Regions from separate parts of the Homo sapiens genome. Here region 2 is linked to region 1. Evidence: fine-mapped expression QTL. Tissue or cell type: lymphoblastoid cells. Region 1 holds a variant in brackets; the other region holds the start of a gene. All regions are shown on one strand. Distances are from middle to middle. Region 1 overlaps ZSCAN25 (zinc finger and SCAN domain containing 25). Region 2 holds the start of OR2AE1 (olfactory receptor family 2 subfamily AE member 1).

The links. PIP is the estimated chance that this variant, and not a neighbour inherited with it, causes the effect.
Region 2: it holds the start of OR2AE1, and the variant in region 1 is the best candidate, but not a certain one, in a credible set for the expression of OR2AE1 in lymphoblastoid cells (GENCORD, PIP 0.55).

What each region holds. Positions count from the first base shown.
Region 1 is chr7:99,623,564-99,628,945 of GRCh38, reverse strand. ZSCAN25 (zinc finger and SCAN domain containing 25) reads right to left here. Exons shown (of 8, transcript NM_145115.3): 7 at 4,766-4,889. Among named protein-coding and RNA genes, the nearest start is that of ZSCAN25, 9.3 kb to the right of the region's middle. The variant A/T (reference allele first, on the strand shown) is at 3,394.
Region 2 is chr7:99,873,784-99,879,165 of GRCh38, reverse strand. OR2AE1 (olfactory receptor family 2 subfamily AE member 1) reads left to right here and starts at 2,133. Exons shown (of 1, transcript NM_001005276.1): 1 at 2,133-3,104. The coding sequence starts at 2,133. The coding sequence ends at 3,104.

The sequences.
Region 1 (5,382 bases):
CAAAATGTAGCTCAATAATTTCCTCTAAGACACTCACCACGATTATTCTCTTACTCTGGGCCTCTTCAGCACTGTGCACCTAACTAGCACTTTATTATTCTGTACCTATTTACATGTGACTTTGTTGGAAATGCTGTTTCCATTCATCCAGATGTCCTGCGCCTTCCCCAAACGATTCTACACCTGCTGTAGCACAGGGCAGCACACAGCTCTCCAGACCTTCCAGGTGCCTGCTCAGTCCCCTGTCCTGCCCACATGCTCCCTCTGCCTAACCAGGTTCATTCATCTGGGTCTCCTAGGAGCCTGGCAGGGGACTGACTCAGGGAAGATGCTTGCTAACTGCTGGCTGAATGAATGAAGCAGGCTTCACTGAGGCTCCTGCAGGAGAACGCCCCTAGGTAGCATATTTATCAGGACTGAGACCATGACGCTGCTGAAATGCTCAGCTTCACCCTTCCTTCATCCTCACTCTGATCCTTCTTATATTCTCTCTAAATTAACGGAACAGGTGTTTATGGAAGAGTAACAGAAAGGGGAGGAGAAAAAAAGAAAAGAAAAGGTATTGGGGAACAAAGAGGCAAAGAGAAAAAAAGAAAAGGAGAAATAAGTGGTGCTTAAAGCGGAAGAGTCCTTTTAGGCAAGATGACTAGAAGACAAAAAAAACCTGACAGTATATGCCTCCTGGTTTGATAAAATATGAAATACATACTTATCAGCTTGGATTTTGTTTTGTAAACTTTTCATGAAAATAAAAGTGTACAAGCCATTTATGTTTTGTACACGCAAAGATTTTATTTTTATTTTTTTGGATCCAGCGCTGGCTAAAAAATGTCACGTTACCCTTTTTTTCCTTTTTGTGGAGATGGGGGCCTCACTATGTTGCCCAGGCTGGTCTCGAATTCCTGGGCTCAAGTGACCCTCCTGCCTCTGCCTCACTGAGTGCTGGGATTACAGGTGTGCGTCACCACACACTATGCAAAGAATTTTCTTAACGAACCCAACCACGTAAACAGCATTCAGTTCAACAAACAGAACATAACCAGTCCCTAGAAGCCCCTTTTACATCTCCTCCATCACTATACCCTGCATATATATACTATACATATACAGTATATACATATACAGCATATACATGTATACAGTATATACAATATACATATACAGCATATACGAGATATACGTATACAGCATATACGATATACGTATACAGCATATACGAGATATACGTATACAGCATATACGAGATATACGTATACAGCATATACATGATATACGTATATAGTATACATATATACTATACCAACGGGAACACATTGTCTGGACTTTTTTGCCTGTTCTTGAACTTCAGGTAATTGTCTCACACATTGTTTCTGGCTTCTTCTACTCAATATCATGTTTGTGACGTTCACCTATATCATGGTGTGAAGCTGTAGTTTATTCTTTTTCATTGGTATACAGTATTCCACTGAGTATATGTATGTGTGTGTGTGTATGTATATATAGATAGATATACAGATACAGATAGACTGCAACCTACTTATTAATTTGACTGTTGTTCATTTGGGTAGTTTTCAGTTTTGAGGTGTTATGAATAGTAAGATTAAAACTAAATGCAATGCACAAACCACAACTAGATCTTGGGGAAAGCTGACTATGCACTAGATGTTACATATATCGAATTTATGTTTATTTTCTTAGATGAAATTATGCTACTGGGCTATGTTGGGAATGTCATTGTTAGACAAATGCTGAAGTATTTACAAATGAAAGATTGAGATGCCTCCAACTTCCATATCATTCCAAAACAAAACACACATTATACAGCTAAATATGGCAAATGTTAACAATTGGTGAATGTAGATAAAGACCTAAGTGTGTTCCCTGTACTAGTCTTAGCTTTTCTGTATGTTTGAAAATTTGTATAATAAGAGTTCAAAATATAAAGCTGGGGGAAAAATAAATACAATGATACCTAAGTATAAACAGAGACACTGGGAGAAAGACACAGTAGTGGAAGAGAAGGGACCTAGCAGTGAGAAACCCGTTTTGAGTGCTGCACTGGCTGCTCAATTGCTGTGTGATCATGGGAAAATCAATTAACCTCTCTGAGCCTTACATTCACCACCTTCAAAATGGATTGTACACTCATGAAGTTTACTGCACACATGGAGCAGGAATGCAATGGTTCATGATATTATTTTAACTCCCAGACCATGTACCTGACTTGCAGCTACTTCCAGGGACCATCCACTTAGATCTCAAAGTCAACAAATGGAACTTTCCATTCTTCCTCCCTCTTAGGAAAATGCTTCCCTCTCTTTCTGACAGTAGTAACATAATTTTTCCAGGCCCTTAGCCAGGATCCTAAGACGTAGACTCCTCTCTGACTCTTCTCTTTCCTCCCCTCTGGCCAATCTGTGGCCCATCCTTGGAAGCATATTTCAGTAAACCCCCTTCTACATGACCACTGGCCTGGTTCCTGCTCTTACCCCAGTGCCTACACTATTTCAACCCTCCAGACTGGCCGTACCCTGCCGTCAATCCAATTTTCCTCAAGTAAAACCTCCATCACATTACTCTGCGCAGAAAAAATTTTTAAACAAGGACCCAGAGTCCTCACGGACTCCTCAGCGGCCTCACTCTACTCACTCCTGCCTCCTCCTTACTCCTCTGAGCACTCATCTTTCACTCCAGGACCCTCACCATCCTGGGAACCAGCCTGCAGAGTCCTGCATTCAGGTTTCTGCACCTGCTACTTTTTGCCTCTGTGATTCCAAATCCTGTTGTGAGTTCTTGCTCCAGTCCTTGTGGACATTACTGCAATTACAACCCAGACAACAAGGTCTGCACCTCACCGTCTGCTAATGAGAACAGACGAACAACTGGAAGTGATCTGGGCAGCCACCTAGCTCAACCCTGCCCTGTGCATTCAGTCTCTTTACAGGTGAAGCAGCTCAGGCCCAGCCCCAAGCAGCTGTCAGTACAAGCACCAGGACAACCCGAGTGTGAATCCCAGGAAGACCTGAAAGCTGGGACAGCAAGTGAATGGTACACTTGGGAAACAGGCCTTCGTGTCACCTGGCGGCAGAAATGTTCAGGTATGGGCTTGAGTTGCTCTGAGTTCTGAGACACTGAGCTGGTGAGGGGACAAGGACAGAACCAGTCTCCAGAACAGTCAGAAATGGCCAGGAGAGCATGAAAATCTTCTGAGAATGGGGGCGAGGGGCTCCTCACCCCACACAGCAGCATCACTGGGAGGGGAATATCCCTGAGGGGGACCCTGGCACCAGGACACTGGCACCTTTGTCTGGGGCTCATCACTCGAGCCCCTGCTTTGTTCTGTCATCCTCTGCCGTTACAGCAATCACACATCTCCACATAAAGTATGCTGAC[A/T]TCTTTCTGCCACTTGCATCACTGCCACACTGTGTCAACCGTGCCCTGGACCCAGGTCTCCCAGGAGACCAGTGCCCCTTACCGTATCCCACTATTACATGCACATGGCCTCTTCCCCTGAACTCTAAGACCCCACAGGCAAGCGCCTTTATTTTTAACTCTTCATAGTGACCAGAACAGCAATGGCCACAGAGCCAAGTCCACCTCTGTGGTGAATAAATGAGTGAAGGCTGAGGGCTCCTACAAGAATCCCTTAGTAATACTTACAGCACTAACTAAACAATCTAACACTACCATGGTCACCACACATTTAGATATGTCACCTCCCTTCATCCTCATGGCACCATGAGGACAGGTTCCATGAACAGCCCCATTCCACAACAGAGGAAACTGAGACCTGGAAAGCTCAAGGGAGATGCTCAAGGTCAGGGTCAGCAAGTGGAGGGGCAGGATGGATTCTCTTACGTCCTGAAGGAAGCACAGGGATAATCTTGCTCTTCCTTCAAGGCATTTCAGGATAAGGAAAGGCTAGGTGGGGTCGGTACAGATGGGTGGTCAGTGTACAACTCACAAAGAAGTTATGAAACAAAAAAGAAGAAAATCAAAGAACAAGGACAGGCCGCTCCAGCCACAGTGTTTCCTCTCCCCGCCGGCATCCTGATTCCACGCATGCAGACTCTCCATACTGTCCCTTGCCCTGGCAGCCCCAAAGCCCCGCAGTGCGCTCTGCTGGCAGCCCCTGTGGGCTCTCTCTCGCTGCTCCTCCTCCCATGAGCTGCTGTCACACACAATGGCCGCATCCCCCCAGGCTCTGAGCCCAGGTCAAACCCAGCCACCACCTGAGTCCCAGCGCAGCTCTGCTTCCTCTGTGACTCGGGCCACTCCAACCTCTCCCATCGCGAAGCCCCCTCGTGCCCTCCTACGTGCACACCGTGAGCTCCAACGCTTTCGTGCACGTTAGTCCTGCCCACTTCCTGCCGCAAGAGAAAACCACTAACACAGGGCCCACATGCAGGGAGCACTCAATAAATATCTGAACAAGCTCAGATGCCCCATCTTTTGCTGTTCGTATCTTGTTCTCAAGCCCTCAGTGTCTTTAATCATGGACACAATGTAGGTGTTTGGGGGTCCTCATGACCGACCTGTCTCCATACAGCCAGAATAATGGCCTCATGTTTTCCTGCTCCATCATTTGGCTCCTCTATTGACACAGGAAAGCAGCTCCTCGTGCCCCATGGTCCGTGCTGGACCCATTTACCCGCCTGCCATGAAGTCCCCTTCCTTTGCCAGGAGCGCCAGAGCTACGGCAGGACCCCTGACCTGAGCTTTCAGAACTCCCCAGTTCCTCACCTGTGGGTGGAGACAGTCTTACCTGGAGAGACCCTGCAGTCCTGCGGTTCCACATACTCCCCAAAGCAGTCTATCTGGGCTGGGGTCACATGCCTCCACTCCTCCTCAGGGAAGGCCAGGGCCATATCTTTAAATGGCCCCAACCCCTGCAACAATAGGAGATTGCTATGAATAAAGAAAGAATCCTAGGCCAGAGACAGTGGCTCATGTCTGTAATCCAACTTCCTCCCAACCAGCTTCCTCCCAACAGTTGAATGGGAGTAATCCACTTGTTTGAGCCACTGCAGTTGTGAGCCTCTGTGGCTGGGGCTCAGCTTGCCCCTAACAACTAAGTCACCTCATTTCCACTCTGCAGCAGCCTCCCACTCACACCTCATGCTTGACAGAGCCTGGCAGCCGCTATTTACCTTCTCATCAAGAACAAAGTTCACATTCGGCCAAGCCCTGTCTTAAGAACAAGGCTGTGATAAAATAAATGCATCCTCAATTTCTCACTCACTGCACCACGAAGAACTATTATGGTACAAGGGAGGATCCAACCAAATTAAAAAGCACTGATGTCATTCCTCATCCCCTCCAAAGTACATCCTTGGAGAACAGGAAAAGGGAAATGATGCTGGCATCCAGCCTTGCCCAAAT
Region 2 (5,382 bases), 250 kb before region 1:
GCCACTAGCAGTCTTGTCTGAATTGGGTTGTAGTTTTCTATTGGCTTACATCATGAGACATGAGAGTACACCCTAGAAAATCTGACTGCAGACATAATTCTCCATATCCTCACTGTATAGTAGTGACTGAATTTCCCATTGCTAGTCAGAATCAGTCTTACTAGCCAATAGAGTAACCTTATTTGCCTATTGATTCAGTTCTATGAGGAGCCCCAAGTGGCATGGTGGCAGTCTTAACTATCAGAAAATGGGATTATTGTTGTGACACCTGGTAGAAGAATTTCTCCCTTTGGAACTAAGACCTCTAAAACAGCAAAAGCTAAAAGTGAAGGGATAGAAAACTAAAATTGTGCTGGTGGGTCACAGTTATGGGGGCTATAGTGAGAGGACTCATTCTCTCTTCTACCTGGTGATTTCTGGTTCCATGAATCTTGCTATGGGAGGAAGAGCAGCATAAATTGGATGCAGATTTAGAGTATATTTCACATCCTAGAGGACACTGCCCCAGCACCAAAACGTGTTGCCAACCAGATGGTCTTCAAAAGGCCTTCCCTTGGATTCTCCTTTAGTTTTTCTGACTTCTGGGTCAGGTGTGTGCATTCTTTTTTTTTTTTATTTTTTTTTTTTTATTTTTTTTTTTAAGACGGAGTCTCGCTCTGTTGCCCAGGCTGGAGTGCAGTGATGCGATCTCCACTCACTGCAAGCTCCGCTTCCTGGGTTCACACCATTCTCTTGCCTCAGCCTCCCGAGTAGCTGGGACTACAGGCGCCCGCCACCACGCCCGGCAAATTTTTTGTATTTTTAGTAGAGACGGGGTTTCACCGTGTTAGCCAGGATGGTCTCCATCTCCTGACCTCGTGATCCACCTGCCTCGGCCTCCCAAAGTGCTGGGATTACAGGCGTGAGCCGCCGCGCCCGGCCAGGTGTGTGCATTTTTAATCTGGCCATTAAGAAGCGCCCCAGCGGCCGGGTGCGGTGGTTCACGCCTGTAATCCCAGCACTTTGGGAGGCCGAGGCGGGGGGATCACGAGGTCAGGAGATGGAGACCATCCTGTCGAACACGGTGAAATCCCCGTCTCTACTAAAAATACAAAAAATTAGCCGGGTGTGGTGGCAGGCGCCTGTAGTCCCAGCTACTACGGAGGCTGAGGCAAGAGAATGGCATGAACCCGGGAGGCGGAGCTTGCAGTGAGACGAGATCGGGCCACAGCATTCCAGCCTGGGCGACAGAGCAAGACTCCAACTCAAAAAAAAAAAAAAAAAAAAAAAGAGGCGCCCCAGCTTCTGCAGGATATCCACACCGCCAATTTCAGAGACAACAAGAACTGACATGGGTTTCAGTCTGCCTTTGTGGGATTGCAGCTCATGCTTGTGGGTTCCAGCATGACTTTGATCTGCCACTCTTTATATCCATTTTTTTTTTCCTGACTACTTGCCCTCTGGAATTAAAGTTCCAGCATCAGACACAAAGGTAACAGCCACGCATAGATTGCCTAACCAGCTTCCACAATTGTATAAGAGAAATCTCTTAGTGTTATAGCTTTTCTAGTAAAATCCTCACTGATAAAATAAGCAACGCCCCCAAGCTTTTCTCCAAACTGTCTCTCTGTGTGTGTCTGTATAGAGAGAGAGAGCTTAAAAATCTGCCTTCACAAACATGATCACTCTGAAATCTCAGAATATCTAGACTCCATTAAGTATCAAACTTCAAGTCTCTTCTCATTAAGAAAGACAAATGTGTGTGTGTGTGTGTGTGTGTATACATATGTGTGTTTTGGAAGCCTAGGAAGTAAATGGGGAATAAATATATACACACATACATATACATACACACACACACACACACACATATATATCTTTCTTAACGAGAAGAGACTTGAAGTTTGATAATAGAGTCCAGATATTCTGAAATTTCAGAGTGATTATGTTTGTGAAGGCAGATTTCTAAGCTCTCTTTTAAAAAAAGGTTATTTGAATAATTAGAGAGGTTGAATAATTAGAAACGGAAATTTTTTTCACAGGTTCTGTCCTCTATCAAAAGGTGCTTTTCCTTGGGTATACTGGACCCCAGTATTTCCAGTCACACTCTTTATCTCCACTCTCTGTTTCCTCAGGGATTGAGAAAGGGGACAATGTGGCAGAAGAATCAGACCTCTCTGGCAGACTTCATCCTTGAGGGGCTCTTCGATGACTCCCTTACCCACCTTTTCCTTTTCTCCTTGACCATGGTGGTCTTCCTTATTGCGGTGAGTGGCAACACCCTCACCATTCTCCTCATCTGCATTGATCCCCAGCTTCATACACCAATGTATTTCCTGCTCAGCCAGCTCTCCCTCATGGATCTGATGCATGTCTCCACAATCATCCTGAAGATGGCTACCAACTACCTATCTGGCAAGAAATCTATCTCCTTTGTGGGCTGTGCAACCCAGCACTTCCTCTATTTGTGTCTAGGTGGTGCTGAATGTTTTCTCTTAGCTGTCATGTCCTATGACCGCTATGTTGCCATCTGTCATCCACTGCGCTATGCTGTGCTCATGAACAAGAAGGTGGGACTGATGATGGCTGTCATGTCATGGTTGGGGGCATCCGTGAACTCCCTAATTCACATGGCGATCTTGATGCACTTCCCTTTCTGTGGGCCTCGGAAAGTCTACCACTTCTACTGTGAGTTCCCAGCTGTTGTGAAGTTGGTATGTGGCGACATCACTGTGTATGAGACCACAGTGTACATCAGCAGCATTCTCCTCCTCCTCCCCATCTTCCTGATTTCTACATCCTATGTCTTCATCCTTCAAAGTGTCATTCAGATGCGCTCATCTGGGAGCAAGAGAAATGCCTTTGCCACTTGTGGCTCCCACCTCACGGTGGTTTCTCTTTGGTTTGGTGCCTGCATCTTCTCCTACATGAGACCCAGGTCCCAGTGCACTCTATTGCAGAACAAAGTTGGTTCTGTGTTCTACAGCATCATTACGCCCACATTGAATTCTCTGATTTATACTCTCCGGAATAAAGATGTAGCTAAGGCTCTGAGAAGAGTGCTGAGGAGAGATGTTATCACCCAGTGCATTCAACGACTGCAATTGTGGTTGCCCCGAGTGTAGAGTGGAATAGGATAAGCTCCTTAAATTAATTCATATAAACCTCTAAAGTTTTTCAGGGAGATAGCTTCCTTATGCTGTTTTACTACTGGAAGAAAAACACATTTAACACACAATTCCAGTATTCCAGCTTGGTGTCAGGTATCCAAGCACTGTGGAGAACATTTGAGTAGATCTTTAGAGAATTAGGGAAAACTTTTTAAAAAGTCCCTTTGAAAGAAGACATATAAAGGTCACTGACACCCTGAAAAAAAGAAGGCAAGATAAAGATATAAGGGCCCTTATCTATTATTATTTTTATTAACAAAAATATATAAAACATGCCACCAGAGAGTATTTATGGAGTTTAAAATTGGAGTGTGTTGCTTACTTTTGGAAGCATGGGAAGTAAATGGTGAATGATGGCTGTTTGAAAGGGAGGATGCATGATATAAAAGTTGTATTCTTTTTTTTTTTTGTGACGGAGTCTCTCTCTGTCACCTAGGCTGGAGTGCAGTGGCACGATCTTGGCTCACTGCAACCTCCGCCTCCCAGGTTCAAGTGATTCTCCTGCCTCAGCCAGGAGTAGCTGAGTATTACAGAGTAGCTGGGATTACAGGCGCGTGCCACCATGCCTGGCTAATTTTTGTATTTTTAGTAGAGACGGGGTTTCACCATGTTGGTCAGGCTGGTCTTCAACCCCTGACCTCAGGTGATCTGCCCACCTTGGCCTCCCAAAGTTCTGAGATTACAGACGTGAGCTACTGCACCTGGCCCTAAAAGTTATATTCTTAGACCCTTAGTGTTCCATGAATCACAGTGTGTAAGAATTCATAAGGGAAAGAATAATACATTTTGTATACATACATAATAATATATAACATAATTCTTGTAATCCATGTTGTGTTTAACAAATCTTTGTTGAGTGCCTAGTATGATCCAGGTGGTAGACTAGATGTTTGGAATTGCATTGTGAAACTTAAGATTTTTTACACATCTGCTTGTGCTTTTCCTTGGTCTACGTTGGACTTGCCATAGCAGGTAGGCATATTAACTTTTATTATTTCACAGGCTGAAAATACCTTTCTGTTCTTTGAGGGTTCCTAGCCTTGTGATTTGGAATCAGAATGATCTGGAGGAGAGTCTGCCACTTGATAACAGTGGTAAGTTACTTAACCTCTCAAGGCCTCAGTAATCTTATGTGTTTAATGAAAAAAAAAATAGGGTGACCTGAGATTTTGTGTTAGTTATGGGTATTGGTTCCAAGCAACAGAAATGGACTCTGAATGAAACAAGCAGAAAAAAGCCTTATTGAAGGCATGATGGGAAGATGTCAGAATCAGTGGGAGCACTAAAGAACCAGATTTGGAGACTATTACTCACATATCCATTTACTGCCAAATTGTCCACAGAATAAGTCCAAGAAGAGGCCAGTAGTAGAATTCATCCAATGGAGACAAGATTATTTGGGTTTAGCAATATGGGGGAGGACTAACACAGGTCATCATAACCATCTGATCTGCAAGGATCTCTTATAATCTTGCTCTTGAAATTATTCTTCTCTCTTCTGCGTTATAAATTTTCCCAGTCTACTTGATCAGTACCTCAGCCTACAGACATACCTTTATGATTGTCATCTTAAAAAGAAACTTCTCCTCAATCCCGGAAAGTCTAAACCAAGCTCATTCAACCCATGTACTGCAGACCATATGTGGCCTGGGAAGGCTTTGAATGTGGCCCAACACAAATTCATAAACTTTCTTAAAACATTTTCATCATCACTGGCCATCAGAGAAATGCAAATCAAAACCACATTGAGATACCATCTCACACCAGTTAGAATGGCGATCATTAAAAAGTCAGGAAACCACAGGTGCTGGAGAGGATGTGGAGAAATAGGAATACTTTTATGCTGTTGGTGGGACTGTAAACTAGTTCAACCATTGTGGAAGTCAGTGTGGCGATTCCTCAGGGATCTAGAACTAGAAATACCATTTGACCCAGCCATCCCATTACTGGGTATATACCCAAAGGATTATAAATCATGCTGCTGTAAAGACACGTGCACACGTATGTTTATTGCAGCACTATTCACAATAGCAAAGACTTGGAACCAACCCAAATGTCCAACAATGATAGACTGGATTAAGAAAATGTGGCCCATATACACAGAATACAATGCAGCCATAAAAAATGATGAGTTCATGTCCTTTGTAGGGACTTGGATGAAGCTGGAAACCATCATTCTCAGCAAACTATTGTAAGGACAGAAAACCAAACACCGCATGTTCTCACTCATAGG